2 separate regions of the Homo sapiens genome follow, and region 2 is linked to region 1. The links come from fine-mapping of genetic effects on gene expression. Tissue or cell type: whole blood. Region 1 holds a variant in brackets; the other region holds the start of a gene. All regions are shown on one strand. Distances are from middle to middle.

Evidence for each region. PIP is the estimated chance that this variant, and not a neighbour inherited with it, causes the effect.
Region 2: it holds the start of TAFA2, and the variant in region 1 is fine-mapped to the expression of TAFA2 in whole blood (INTERVAL, PIP above 0.99).

The regions. Positions count from the first base shown.
Region 1 is chr12:62,425,725-62,433,993 of GRCh38, forward strand. No RefSeq gene overlaps it. Among named protein-coding and RNA genes, the nearest start is that of MON2, 37 kb to the right of the region's middle. The variant T/C (reference allele first, on the strand shown) is at 3,821.
Region 2 is chr12:62,189,211-62,197,210 of GRCh38, forward strand. TAFA2 (TAFA chemokine like family member 2) reads right to left here and starts at 3,563. Exons shown (of 5, transcript NM_178539.5): 1 at 2,049-3,563. RefSeq lists an enhancer at 2,955-3,488 and a silencer at 4,858-5,152.

The DNA.
Region 1 (8,269 bases):
GATTTAAAAAAAAAAAAAAAAAAAAAAAAAAAGAGCAATAAGAACCCATGGGACAATATCAAAAGACCTAACACATTATTTATATGACTTTGAATTTCTCATCAGAAGCGATGGAGTCCAAAAGAGAATGGAACACCTTTAAACTGTCAAGAGAGGAAAAGACTGTCAACTCAGAATTCTTTGTCCAGCAAAAATATCCCTCAGAATAAAAAGGAAATAAAGACATTCTCAGATGAAGGAAAATTGTGAGACTTCATCACCAGCAAATCAGCTCTAAAAAATACTTAAAGGAAATTACTCAGGCTAAAGGAAAATGACACCAGAAACTTAAAACTTGAAAAATGAAAGAAGAGCAATGAAAATTATCACAGTCTGAGTAAATATAATAATCTATTTTTCTCCCCTTAAGTTTTGAAAAATGTGTGTTACTGAGGAAAGCAAAATATGATTGGGAGGCAGTCTGCTACGGACCTCTTGTACTCCTACATGTCTTGCGGAGTGTGTAAAGATTGCAAGGCCCTAACAACTCTTTCAGCCAGGTCATTTCTCAGAGTTGTTTATGCAGCTGGTAATTATCAAAGGTGATGTAATATGTGCTCTCAGACAAAAAGCTGGCCTCTTTGTGGCTTGCCATAAAAGTGAAAGACTCCTTAATTTTTTTTTTTTTTTTTTTTTTTTGAGATGGAGTTTCACTCTTGTTGCCCAGGCTGGAGTGCAATGGCAAAATCTTGGCTCACTGCAACCTCCGCCTCCTGGGTTCAAGCAATTCTCCTGCCTCAGCCTCCCAAGTAGCTGGGATTATAGGCATGTGCCACCATGCCCAGCTAATTTTGTATTTTTAGTACAGATGGGACTCATTAATTTTGATGTTCCTTTCCTCTGGCCCCATAAACCCACTGTGCATGTTGGCTTCTTTAGGCCTTTTACATTACCTCATGGGTGTGGGGCTCAGGGAACCAGCACAAAATGCTGATTCTCTGGTTTCTGCCACTGGTGTGTGTGAATAAAAACATCGTTTGTCTCTGACACAGGATTCTAGTGTCTTCAGCATTCATGAAATTATAGCATGCTAACTTAATAAGCTTAAAATAGGGTAAAATAAATCTCCTCTCAAAATTATACCATTGCCTGGTAGGAATATTAATGTCTGTAAGTGTAATACATATGACAACTGTAAGATAAAGAGAGGAGGGTACAACAACCTGTGTGGTTGTAAGGTTTCTACCTTTTACTTAAGTAGTAAAATATTAACCTGAATAAAATGGGAAAGGTTAAGTAAGGTATGTATAATTTAAACTACAGAGAAGCCATTAAGACAAAAAAATCTAAAAGACATTGCCAAAAAGCTAATAAACTAAAAAGGAATAATAAAGTATTCAAATCATACTAAAGGATGCAAAAAAGGTGAAAGAATCAAAAAGCAGATAAGACAAGTAAACAAATCATGAATTGGGAGACTTAAACCCAATAATATCACTAATTACATTAAATGAAAATGATCTAAACACACTAATTAAAAGATAGAGATTGTTAGACTGGGTGACATCATATTCTGCCAAATATGCTGCCAAATAAAAGTACCACAAACTTAAGAGAGAAAAATAGCTTAAACAACAAAAATTTATTTTTCGTAATTCTGTAGAGAAGTCTGAAACCAGGTGTTGGCAGGTTTGGTTCCACCTGAGGTTTGTGAACGAGAGCCTGTTCTCCATGTCTTGCCTACCTTTTCTTCCTTGATGTTCCTTGGCTTGTTTGCATCATCCCAATTTCTGTCTATGTTCACATGACACTCTCCCTTTCTCTGGGTCTGTCTCCATTTTCCCCACTTTATAAGTACACCACTTTATTTATTCTTTTTCTTTGAAACAGGGTCTCACTCTGTCGCCATCTCAGCTGGAGTGCAATGGTGCCATCTCGGCTGGAGTCCAATGGTGCCATCTTGGCTCACTGCAACCTCTACTTCCCAGGTTCAGGCAATTCTCATGCCTCAGCCTCCCAAGTAGCTGTGACTACAGGTGCACACCACCATGCCAGGCAAATTTTTGTGTTTGTAGTGCAATCAATCTACAAGTTGTTGTTCAATGGATATTGACTTTTAGTAGTGCACGATGAAAAAGTTCTAGGGATGTGTTACATGTCAATGTGACTATAGTTACTTAAAAATGGTTAAGATGGTAAATTTTATTATGTTTTTTTGCCACAAATAAAAAACCTAATTCACTTATACAAACTTAGAGACAAATCATAGTATGTGTTTTTGTATCATTAGGAGTAACAATAAAGTTTACAAATTGATTTTTAAAAACTAATCACCCGTGAAAAAATCGTAAGATCATCTCAGTTGCAGAAAAAAAGCATTCAGCAGATTCAACACCTTTTGTTCAACAACTGTGTTGAGGTACAATTGATATATAAAAATCACATACATTTAATGCATACAATTTGATGAGTTTGGACATATGCACACATATGTGATACCACCACTACAATCAAAGTAATAGATAGATTTATCGCATCCTGAAGTTCCCTTGATTTTCTTTGTGGGTTTTTTTCTGGCGAGGTAGGGGGGCGCAGTAGGCAGTTAGAACACTTACCTAACTTTACCCTATTAACAAATTTTGAAGTGTACAATACTATATTGTTAATTATAGGTATAATGTTGTACAGCAGATATGTAGAACTTATGTATCTAGCATAACTAAAACTTTATATCCATTGAACAACGCCTATTTCCCCTACCCTTCATCCCCTGGCAACCATAATTGTAGTTGTAATTTCCATCAGTTGGAATATTATAAACACCTCATATAAGTGGAATCATGCAGTATTTGTCCTTGTATGTTGACTTATTCTCTTAGCCTAATGTCCTCAAGACTTATCCATGTGGTCGCAAATAGTAGGATTTCCTTATTCTATAAGGATGAACATTTTATTTATACGCAACATTTTATTGCATATATATTTTCTTTATCCACAATTTCTTTATCCATTCATCTGTTGATGTAAACTTGGGTTGTTTACATATCTTGACTGTTGTGGATAATGCTGCAGTGAACATAGGAATGCAGATGTCTCTTCAAAATCCTGATTTTAATTTTTTGGGCATATACTCAAAAGTGAAATTACTTTTGAGTGATTTCACTCAAAAGTAAAATTTCAAAAGTGAAATTTTATGGTACTTCTATTTTCGATTTTTTGAGGTACTTCTATATGATTTTCCATGACGGATGCAACATTTTACATTCCTACCAACAGTGTACAAGGGTTCTAATTTCTCCACATCCTTACCAGTATTTGTTATATATATATATTTTAAATAGACATCTTGGTAGGTGTGAGGTGATATCTCACTGTAGTTTTGATAAAGACTCCACAAAAAACCTGTTAGAATAGATAAATTCAGCCGGGCGCGGTGGCTCACGCCTGTAATCCCAGCACTTTGGGAGGCCGAGGCGGGCAGATCACAAGGTCAAGAGATTGAGACCATCCTGGCCGACATGGTGAAACCCTGTCTCTATTAAAAGTATAAAAATTAGCTGGGTGTGGTGGCAGGTGCCTGTAGTCCCAGCTACTCAGGAGGCTGAGGCAGGAGAATCGCTTGAACCCGGGAGGTGGAGGTTGCAGTGAGCTGAGATCACGCCATTGCACTCCAGCCTGGGCGACAGAGTGAGATGCCATCTCAAGAAAAAAAATTTAAAAAAAAATAGATAAATTCAGTAAAGTTGCTAGATATAAAATCAACATGCAAAAATAAATTGTGTTTCTATACACTAACAGTGAACCATTCAAAAAGAAAAGCAAACAAATCCACTTATAATAG[T/C]ATCAAAAAGAATAAAATACTTAGGAATAAACTTAACCAAGAAGGTTGAAGGTTGTATTAGTCAGTCAGTGTTTTCTAGGAGGGACAGAATGAATAGGATGTATCAATAGATAGGATAGATAGATAGATAGATAGATAGATAGATAGATAGATAGATGACAGATAGATAGATAGATGATAGATAGATAGAAGGAGATTTATTAGGGGAATTGGCTCACATAATAATGAAGGCTAAGAAGTCTCATGATAGGTTGTCTGTAAGCTGGAGAACCAGGGAAGTGTAAATATGTCTCAGTCCAAGTGTAAAGTCTTCAGAACTAGGGAAGATGATGGTGTAACTCTCAGTTCAAGGCTGAAGGACTGAAAACCTGAAGTGGGAGTGGGGTGGCTGGCATAAGCCCCAGAGTCCCAAGGCCAGATAATCTGAAGATCTGATGTCCAAGGGCAGGAGAAGAAGGGTGCCCCAGCTCTGAGAGAGAGAGAGAGAGAAAGAGAGAGAGAGAGAGACAGACAGACAGAGAGTTAGTTTACCTTTCCTCTGCCTTTTTTGTTCTATCCAGGCCCTCAGCTGATTGAGTGGTGCCCACTGACATTGGGTGAGAGTGGATTTTCCTTAATCAATGCATTCATTCAAATGTCAGTCTTTTCTGTAAACCCCTTAATAGACATACCCATAAATAATGCTTTACCAGGTGTCCGGACATCCCTTAATCCAGTCAAGTTGACACCTAAAATTAAGCATCACAGAGGTGAAAGACTTCTACACTGAAAACTATAAAACATTGATGAAATAAACTAAAGGAGACACAAATAAATGGAAAGATACACTATATTCATGAATTTGAAGACTTCACATTGTTTAAATGCCAATACTATCCAAAGTCATCTACATATTCAAAGCTATGCTCATCAAAATCCGAAAGGCATTTTTTTTTACAGAAATAGCAATAACAGTTCCAAAATTCATATAGAACTATAAAAAACTCAGAATAGCCAAAGCAATCTTGGAAAAGAAGAACAAAGTTGGAAGCATCACACTTCGTGATTTCAAAATAGATTACAAAGCTACAGTAACTAAAACACTATGGTGCTGGCATAAAAATAGACATATAGATTAATGAAATAGGATAGAAAGCCCAGAAATAAATCCATACATATACCACCAACATGTCCTTGACAAGGGTGCCAAGAACATACAATGGGTGAAAAGAGAGTCTCTTCAACAAATAATGCTGAAAAATTGGATATCTACATGCAAAAGAATGAAATTATACCTTTATCATACACTGTACACAACAAAGCAGTTCAAAATGGGTGAAAGACTTAAACATATGACCTGACACTGTAAACTTCCCAGAATAAAAATGGGGGAAATCCTCATGACATTGGTCTTGGCGATGATTGTTTCCATATGACACGAAAAGCACAGGCAGCAAAAGCAAAAATAGACAAGCAGGGCTCATCAAACTAAAAAGCTTCTGCACAGTAAAGGAAATAATCAACAGAATGAAAAAGCAACCTATGGAATGGGAGAAAATACATGTAAGCCACGTATCTGTTAAGGGGTTAATTTCTAAAATATAATGAACTCCTACAACTCAATAGCAAAACAAAACAAAATAACACAATTTAAAAATGGGCAAAGGACTTGAAAAGACATTTCTTTAAAGAAGACATACACATGGCCAAGGGGTATGTGAAAAGATGCTCAACAACAATATCTTTTATGAATAAAACTCAGTGAACTGAGATTAAGAAGGCTCTTCCCCAATCAGATAAAGGGAATCTATGGAAAACCTATAGCTAACATCATACTTCATGGTGAAATACTGAATGCTTTCCCTCTAAATGAGGCAACATGCAAAAATATATGCTTTCACAACTTTTATTCAACATTGTACTACAGGTCTTAAATAGGTAAGAAAAAGAAAAGTCCTAAAGATTGTAAAGGAAACTAAAATTGCATTTATCCCGGCTTTGAGCAATTTGAGCATTATGTACCTTAGTGTCATTTTCTTCATGTTTCATGTGCTTGGAGTTTGTCATTCTTGATCTGTGGGTTTAGTTGTTTCATCAAATTTAGAAAATTTTCAGCCATTATTTCTTTAAATATTTGTTGTATTCCTCTCTTATTCTTTGAAGAATCTGATTATACATTTATTAGTCCCTAGAAGTTGTCCCACAGTTCACTGAAGATGCTTTCATCTTTTGAAATTCATTTTTAATGTTTCAATTTGGTTAATTTTTATTGCAATATACTGCAAAACAAATTCACTTATTTTTGTTCACTAATCTTTTATTCTGTCTAATCTGATTTTCCCATATATTGTATTTTTATCTTATACTTTGCATTTTTCTTACCTCCAAGTTCATTTGAGTGTCTTTTATATTTTCCATGTTCCTGACTTGGGTATATGGGATATAATTTTATTATTTTAATATCCTTGTCTGCTAATTGTAATGTCTGTATCAGTTCTGAATTCATTTTAATGGTTTAATTATTCTCCCAGTTATGGATCATGTTTTCCTGCCACTTTGCATGCCTGGTAATTTTTATTGGAAACCAGACACTGTGAATTTTAGCTTATTGGGTATTGGATATTTGCCTGTATTCCAATAAATACTATTGAGCTTTATTCTGGTATGCAGTTAAATTACCTAGAAGCTGTTTCAGATCTTGTTTTTATGATTTGTTTGACAGGTTCATAGGAATGCTCAGTTAGAGCTAATTTTTCCCCACTACTGAAGCAAGGCTCTGCTGACTATTTTACCCAACGTCACATGCTTTAAGTTTTTCACTATGGCTGGTGCAAACAGGAACCAAGCCATATATCTGATAAGGGGTTAATTTCTAAAATATAATAAACTCCTACAACTCAATAGCAAAAAATGAAACAAAACAAAATAACACAATTTTAAAATGGGCAAAGGGCTTGAAAAGACATTTCTCCAAAAAAGACATTCTACCCAATGTCACATGCTTTGAGTTCCCAGCCCCAAGTGAATGCCAGTCACGGTTTCCTTTACTCTTTCGGGATGATTTTTTCTTCCAGACTCAACTTCTTTTCTCACACTTATGCCCTGACCAGTACCCTGAAGGGTGTATCCTCAGCAGATCTGCTCTTTGTGAAGAAAATCTCCACTCCAAGCACTCTGCCCTGCAAGCTTGAGGTACCTTGGTTTCCTTGGACTATCAACTACATCTCTCAACCCAGGATGTTCACTACACTCCATCCCATTTCTCTTTCTCTGCACTATAGCCTGCAAACTCTCAAGGCAGTAAGCTGAGGAAATCATAGAGCCCTACTACTTACTTCCCATCTCTCAGTGATGACTGTCTTTTGTTGACTGATGCCCAATATTATGAGAAATGCTATTTCATATATTTTATCTGGTTTATTTTTGGTTGTTTTTGGCAAGAGTGTAAATCCAGTCCCTGTTACTCCATCTTGGATTGAAATAGAAATCTAGACTTCTTTATGTAAGAGAAAAAAAAAATCCTGATTTAATTCAGTGTTATTTGAGTATTCTGTAATATACAGACAAACCTAATCCTAACTCCTAACACTGAGTACTTGGATGAGGGGATTAAAGAAAGAAGTCTTCAGGCACCTCATGAGGCCAACTCTGTGGATTTGTGTCCAAATCTCCATCAATGAAAGTAATTTCTATGTCTCTTTTCCACAAGACTCCGGGGCATGTGAAGAGGACATTTTGAGACTGAGGGTATATACTGGGTGATCAGTTCAATTAGTGATGCCATTAACTGAGGAAGAAATACCTCCTAGAGCTGATTCAGGCATCCTAATAGTATATATATTCAAAAAGGTACAAAATTATACACAGAGCATCACTAAATACGTGGGTCTGAAGGTATTTTATATATGAATAAATAACATCACTATATTCAACCAATATTTCCTCTTGTTAAAGATGACATGCCCATAGATTTATTTACATTTTATTTTCTTTTTTAAAAGGAAAGGCTGGGCATGGTGGCTCACACCTGTAATCCCAGCACCTTTGGAAGTGGAGGCAGGTGGATCATCTGAGGTCAGGAGTTCAACACCAGCCTGGCCAACATGGTGAAACCCCGTCTCTACCAAAAAAAATACAAAAATTAGCCAGGCGTGGTGGTGCGCCCCTGTAATCCCAGCTACTCAGGGGGCTAAGGTATGAGAATTGCTTGAACCCGGGAGGTGGAGGTTGCAGTGAGCCAAGATCACGCCACTGCATTCCAGCCTGGGCGGCAGAGTGAGACCCTGTCTAAACAAAACAAAACAAAACAAAACAAAGAAAACTTCTCAAAGCACTTGTAAATAGTATTTGAAGGCATCACACTAGTGCAGAAGCATCTTCTGTTTGGTCAGTTAGTGGTTATTATAATCCTTCATCTCAAGATATGTAACTCTCAAGTTTAAACATAAAGAATATTTGTGCTTTCTATGC
Region 2 (8,000 bases), 240 kb before region 1:
CTGAATAAAACAACACACTAAAGCCATTTGCCTCTTAAAAGATTCCCTGTGCCTAAGTATTCAGTTGGCAGTGACATCAACCTCACGGACTTTTAGTATCTATAAATAATACAATCCAACTTTTTTATTGAAAATTAGGAAAATGAAAATATTTATAAGCTCCAGTGTGGTAACTGATGGCCTTTAAGTGGCTACTGGTGGCTTTAAAAATTAAGATTCTAAAAAGAAAGGTCAACTCAAACAATTGACTCAGGATGAGATTCAAAACAAAATAAAGTAAGGAAAGAGACAAACATGTCTGATCTTTTATTTGAAATATAGGATGTTAGGTGCCAATTTTGATATTGCAAATGATTAATCAGTCTGAGAGTACAAATGCAAACATGGAAAGGCTGGGGTAAGTACAAATAATCTTAATCTTCTGATTTTTAAAGCTTTAGAAGTGTTTTTAATCTCCTTTCCTGGTTATTTTGGTTTAGCACTTTACACAAAAATCTTAAATTAATTGTTCATTTGTCTTAACTTATATGCCTAATAAAGCAGTTTAGGAGTGTTAATTGACAACTCTGAATGTTGATGTTTAAAACAATCTAGTTGAGAAGACAAGAATCAGATAATTATCATTCAGTCAATAGTAACTGAAATTCATCCTGTCCTGTGTGAAGGACCCTGCTACACTACCAAGTACTTTGGGGACACTTCAGAGTAAAGGTTGCTTATGAGTTTGCTTTGTGTGTGTGTGTGTGTGTGTGTGTGTGTGTGTGTGTGTCTGTGGTTTTTAAGGTTTTTTTTCTCCACGAACCATTTTGTAAAATCCAAGAGGGGATTTCATACTCACAAAAAGATAATTTTTTCCCTCTCTCTCTCTTATTGCCATAATCAAACTCACGCAGCAAAGGTGAAGAGAGACTAGCCGCTGGAGTAACATTACTACACATTTGATTCCAAACGCTTCAGGCAATTGTTTAACACTCGGTCAGGACGTGGAATACTCAATAGGGAAGCCTCGCGTCCACCCAAAGGCTCTACGAGCGTCTATGGTTCTTCCTTTTCAGACAGGATAACTCAACCTGCAGTTCTGAGAGAAATAGGGCGACGGATCTCAAACTTTCCTTTGCAAAGCCAGTTTCTGAAAATAACACGTTCCCCCATTGATAAGTGAAGATCAGTAGCCTCAAGAAAACAATACTTGGTAGGCACCTGGCCTTTCAGAATTGAAGGGGGAAGGAATGGCAAAGCAGTTAGCAGAAAACCCGGGTACTAGTAGCAAGATCCGGGAGACATCTAACCGGAAAGAAATAAAAAACCATTAGTTTCCCGAAGCCATTCTTATTCTGAACGCTGTTCGTTAAGAGAATCATTTACTAAAGCTCTCTTGTAGTAGCCTTTACAAAAGCTTTATTTCATTCAGTAAGAAAGCGCCCCGTCCCAAATCTAAATAAACCTTACATAGATGAGGCTCCGGAAATTATCAGCTTGATTCTTTATGAAGATAGTTAGAGGTGGATAAATCAATAGACTCGCTGAAACACCCACCTTCTGCAAACAGGCCTGAGAATTAACTAATCAGAAGTGGACAAAAAGTAGGGATTTCAGAAAGATGACCTGACACATCCCATTGATCTTCCCTGGAATGCGACCCCCAACTCCTTATTAAGAGTCCAAAATGGTTACCAGCCAGGATGGGTCTGGGTGAGGAATCGAATTACAACCCACTTCAATCCTCGACCTGGTCGTTTGCTGTTATTAGGAGAAATGGGGCAGAGAGGGAGGGCACCGCTCACGGAGCCTCATTTCGCATGCTCCGATCCCCTCTCGGCGTCCCTCTACTCCGCCCCTACCCTGACCGCCCGCGAGGGAGACGCCGGCCGATGGACCCGCATCTGCCCTCACCTCTCGCCTTCCCCGGGCGATCCCTCTACAGTCCCGGACCCCCGAGAAAGGGGAAGGGAGACGTGTGCACACGGGGGCTTCCGGGACCGCGGTCCTGCAGTTGCCGCTCCGGTCCCCAGCGCTGGCCGGCGACCCGAGGCGCGGCTCGCACCTACCTGCAGCCCCGCTTCCCGGTGGCGGCAACACCTAGCGATGCTCCTGCAGCTTTTGCGGGCCGGCGCCAGCCTTATCGCTCTCGCATCGCTTCCAAGATGCCAATCCGCCGTCACCATCCAGGGGCATAGGGAACCGAAGTCTGGTGCTGTGTGATCGTGGAGGGCGGCGTGTGAGTGTGGCCCTGAGCGTGCGAGTGTGCGCGCGCGTGTGTGGATGTGTTTCCTCCTCCGATGGCAAAGACGGTTCAGGAATCTGACATCCAAGCTGGAATCCCCCTGAAGCGGGTGAAGGTGAGCCTGATCCTTCTCCCCGCTTCTTTATTCCACAGTGTCAAAGTAATCAAAAGATTTGTTTACTGAGGAAAAGCCAAAGTCCCGCAGCCCTTGGCAGCGCCCGCGGTCGCCTCCTGTCCTCGCCGGATGCGCGCGGTGCGCTCAGCTCCCTGGACTGCAAGAATCAAGGCGGTCTTGCTGCAATTACCGCTCTTATTCCATCTCTGATTTGTTTGCTTTTAAGGCCGACTAAAGACTTTTCCTCTCGCCTCACGTCGTCTCTCCCTCTCACACACACACACACTCACACATCCTCCGTTCCCTCTCTCCCGCCCTCCCTCTTGTTCTCTGGGGAAAGGCAATTGGACAGAATGATTCACCTTCAGGAAAGCAGCCTCGGCCACGCACTTCTCGAGTTCCCTGGCTCTCGCAGGTACCGGGTCTCCAACGTGGCGGAGTTGCTGGGAAGCTCGGGACAGGAAGGAGGAGAGGCTCTGAGCTCAGCCGATGTCCCCCCTCCAGACGCCCGCGTTCCTCCGTCCAGGTGCCCCTGTTCCCACTGCTCGCAGATAGGTCCCCGCTGGTGCCCTCGCGGAGACTTGGCGCCTTCCACTCGAATCCACTTAGCAGCAACTCCTGGCCAGCTTCAGCCCCTCAATCCCGCCTCGAAGTGCTGCGGGCAGAGCCCCACGCAGCCCACCCGCTGCCCTTCTAGGCATCGTGGGCTGGAAGGAAGGGAAACCCGCCGATGTCCCCCTGGTAGCAGTGCCCTGGCACCGTCACCACCGAGGAGGTGCGAGTTCCAACATCGAACACAAGCGAGCAGGTGTCGCCTGTGTCACTTTGCTAAAGGCGGGAGGGGAGAAAGAAAGGAGCGGGGGGAGGGGGCCGAGGAAACAAATCCAGATCACCGGCGGAGAAAGAAGCCGTTTAGCAAGCAAAGCCTCCTCTCCGCGTCCCACCCCAGATGCTATACTGTCAAAAGACACTGATGCTAATCTTTTAGAAAGTCGCCATAAAGGGCAGAGCCCCTGCTCCACTCTAGAACCCTATTCCACCCAGCCTGGCTGTCCAGTGAGTACAGAGTGACTTGGCTCCCCCGTATAGTGCAGCGAGAATGCAGGAGAATAGGTCCTGACACTCCAGGTTGAGTTAAGCAGTAAAATGGAATGGCAGGGCCGGGCGGCGTTGCCTCGCCTCTCTCTCCCAACAGCCAGTTCTGTTAGCCCCAGCAACTGCCGTTGAGAGCAAACAACGGTCCTGCAGAAAAAGAACGAGACAGTAAAAGATGAGGAGGCAACTGGTATAAAAGCTGGACTATGTCTCCCTCTAGAGGGTCAACCGGATTAGAACGCTTTACTAGATGTAACAGACCAGTTTCTCTCCATAAAGAAAAAGAAAAAAATATCTGGTTTCAGATAATTTGCATTTTTACAAATTACAACTTCTCAAGGATTTAGACGGAGGATTTTCACTGCAGCCCTATTAAGCAAAGCCCTTGCTAAAGGAACGTCGTGATATTCATGACGCTGGAAGGTCATGTCCTTACATGTTTGGTCAAATTGGGTGTCGGTTTAAGCGCTGTGCATATGAGCTCAAATGAAGGGTCTTCTGAGGCTCACTTCGATCATGTTTGGAGATGAGCAAAACCTTAATCTAGTGATTAGAAGACTATTCAAAAATGAATAATTAGTAAGAATGAATTCAGAAAAAGAAAATCTGAAACAAAGAAAGGGAATGCTGACCCAGGAAATTTTACAAGTCCTTTACAAGGAAAGATAACTCAAGAATCTGGTTTTGGAGCCAGTTTTCATACCTCTTTTTCAACTAGACCAATAATGGTCAAGATAGCTAAATTCCTTCCAGCTCTAAAGGTCTGTGCTTTTATATAGCTGTGATTCACTGAAACCATTGACAAATTAGGTATCACAAGCTCTCTTCACCAGCTATAAAATAAAAGTAATACTACATACCATATTTACAAAGAAATATAGAATATGTGCTTCACTTAGCTATTTTATCTTAACATGCTTAGTAAATCAACCATATTTTGTATCTAAAATGCATCAAGTAATTTAATTATGTTGAGGTGGTCATTTTTATAAAAAATAGCTCCACCGATTTTATAAAGTTTTGTTACATCAGTCCAAATCAAGCTAGGTCCCATCTGTAACCTTAACATTTAGATTTTTGTGAACTTACTATTTGAGCTGGGGGTTTGCTTTCAAAATGTTTCTGTATGTTCAAAAATTGTAAAATGTGTATTAAAGTTATTATTAAACACCCTTCCATTCACTCTGAATTTCTGGAGCAGTTCTATTTTAACTTGATAATCTAAATTAGCACAGTCATAAAGAAAGAAAAGAATGTATTTTTTAAATAGCTGAGACTAGTTGAAATCATTTAAAACAAAGCACCAAAACTAAACAAGGCAAGTTTTACCGTAACTAATTGCTCTATGGCATATTTGACTTTGTCTAGTAGTATACAGCAATCATTTGTTTCCAAGGATCTCTCAGATAGTCTCTTTCAAAAGATTTATGCCATGTGATTAAATATTTCATTCCACTTACATAGTAACTTATATCCAGGAAAGCAACGTTTACATTTTAAAACACCTGGCACTGTTGCACTGCAAATCTTACAGTATTTTTTTGTCTGCTGTGTTCAATAGTGTGATGAAATTCAAGCAGGAATGACATTGGAAACTTGGACTCTGTACTAGAAAGAAGTCACTTACAAAATCACTTTAGAACATTGGCTTTCTTTTCACACACACACACACACACACACACATACAAAAAAACATAAAGCATACATTATAATCTTTCTACCTTCTAATTCATTAACTTTTTGTGGTTGTAATCTATAGTTTTGTCATCTTGTTAAAATTTTATTTGTATTGTTTAAGTGTGGGACATTTTCAGCCTTATTTTTCTAACTAAACCCACTGTGTTTTTACAATATATGAAAAAGTAAAGAGAACAGATATATAAATTAATTACAAAATAGAACAAAATTTCTTATCCAATGTCATATGATGCTGAAATTCTATCATAACCTCTGTGCTTTTTGTAAATAATTCCCAATAATTTTTAGATCAAGATATTCCTATTTCCAGCATCTCCTAGACAAAATAAAATCTTTTGCATTCTCTTCAAAGGAAACAAAGTAGTAAAGATTCTCCTAATTTAACAGAAATTTTTTGTTGATACTTCTTACCTTCTACAGGCATGCCTCAAAAATGTTGCAGGTTTGGTTCCAAACCACCACAAATATTGCAATAAAGTGAGTCACACAATTTTTTTGGTTTCTCAACACATGTGAAAGTTATGTTTACACCATACTGCAGTCCATTAGGTATGCAATAGCATTTTGTCTTAAAAATGTACATATCTTACCTTGAAAATGGTTTAATGCTTTTTTTAAAAAAAGTGTACTGATGATCTGAGCCTTCAGTGATTCCTAATCTCTTTGCTGATGGAGAGTCTTGTTTCAGTGTTGATGGCTGCTGATGGATCAGGGTAGTGGTTGCTGAAGGTTGGAATTGCTGTGGCGATTTCTTAAAATAAGACAATAATGAGGTTTGCTGTGTCAATTGACTCTTCCTTTCACAAAAGATTTCTCTGTAACATGCAATGCTGCTTGATAGCATTTTATCCACAGTAGAACTTCTTTCAAAATTGGAGTTAGTCCTCTCAACTCTGCCACTGCTTTATCAGTCAGGTTTATAAAATATTCAAAATCCTTTGTTGTCATTTCAACAATATTCACAGCATCTTCACCATGAGTAAATTCCATCTCAAAAAAAACTACTTTGCTCATCCACAGAAGCAACTCTTCTAGCATCTAGAATGGTGAATGATCTCCAGAAGCTTTTCAATTTACTTTGCCCAGATCCATCAGAGGAATCATTATCTATGACAGATGTAGCCTAGCAAAATATATTTCTTAAATAAGAAGACTTGAAAGGCAAAATTACTCCTTGACCTATGGGCTGCAGAACAGATGTTGTGTTAGCAGGCATGAAAACAACATGAACCTTCTTGTACATCTTCATCAGAGCTGTTGGATGACCAAATGTATTGTCAATAAGCAGTAGTATTTTGAAAGGAATCTTTTTGTGAAGCCAGTAGCTCTCAACAGTAGGCTTAAAATATTTAATAAAATATGCTGTAAACAAATGTGCTGCTATCAGGCTTTCTTTTTCCATTTATAAAACACAAGCAGAGTAGATTTATTATAATTCTTAAGGGCCATACGATTTTCAGAATAGCAAATGAGCATTGGCTCCAACTTAAAGTCACCAGCTGCATTATCCTCTAACAAGAGAGTCATCCTGTCCTTTGAAGCTTCGAAGCCAGGCACTGACTTCTCTCTAGCTGGGAAAGTCCCAGATGTCATCCTCTTCCAATATAAGGATGTTTATTTACATTGAAAATCTGTTGTTTAGTGTATCCACCTTCATCAATGATCTTAGCTAGATCTTCTGGATAACTTGCTGCAGCTTCTACCTAAGCACTTACTGCCTCACCTTTTACTCATGTATTATGGAGACAGCTTCTTTCTTTAAATCTCATGAACCAACCTCTGCTAGTTTCAAATTTTTCTTCTGAAGATTTTTTACCTTTCTTTCAGCCTTTATAGAATTGAAGAGAGTTAAGGCTTTGCTCTGGATTAGACCCTGGCTAAAAGGAATGTTGTGGCTGGTTTGATTTTCTATCTAGACCACCAAAGCTTTCTCTATGTCAGCAATAAGACTGTTTTGCTTCCTTATCATTGTGTGTTCACTGGAGCAGCACTTTTCATTTCCTTCTTGAACTTTTCCTTTGCATTCACAACTTGCCTAGCAGTTTGGCTCAAGAGGCCTAGTTCTCAGCTTTTGACATGCCTTCCTCCCTATTAAGCTTTTGATTTAAAGTGAGAGACATGAGACTCTTCCTTTCATTTGAACACTTACAGACCACTGTAGGGTTATATTAATGGGCCTAATTTCAATATTAGGTCAGGGAATAGGGAGACCCCAGGAGAGAGAGGGAGTTGGGGGAACAGCCAGTTGGTGAAACAGTCAGAACCACACAACATTTATTAATTAAGTTTGCCATCTTACATAGGCACAGTTCATTGCATCCTAAGACAATTATAATAGTAACATCAAAGACCAGTGATCACAGACCGCCATAACAGATACAAGAATAATACAAAAAGTCTGAAATATTGTGAGAATTACCAAAATCTAACACAGAGACATGAAGTGAGCACATGCTGCTGAAAAAATGGCACTGAGGGACTTATTCAACACAGGGTTACCACAAACCTTAAATTTGTAAAAATAAAAGAAAATAATAATAATAAATAAAAACAATATTTGCAAAGTGCAGCAAAGAAGGGGTCTCCAACCCCCAGGGACTGGTACCCTCCCTGTTAGTAACCCAGCCTCACAGCAGGGGTGAGCTGTGGGCAAATGAGCATTACCGCCTGAGCTCCATCTCCTGTCAGATCAGCTGCGGCATTAGATTCTCACAGGAGCCTGAACCCTATTGTAAACTGCACATGCAAGGGATCCAGGTTGTGCGCTCCTTATGAGAATCTAATGCCTGATGATCTGAGGTGGGATGGTTTCATCCCGAAATTATCCCCCACCAACTGTCCATTGAAAAAAATTGTCCTCCATGAAAC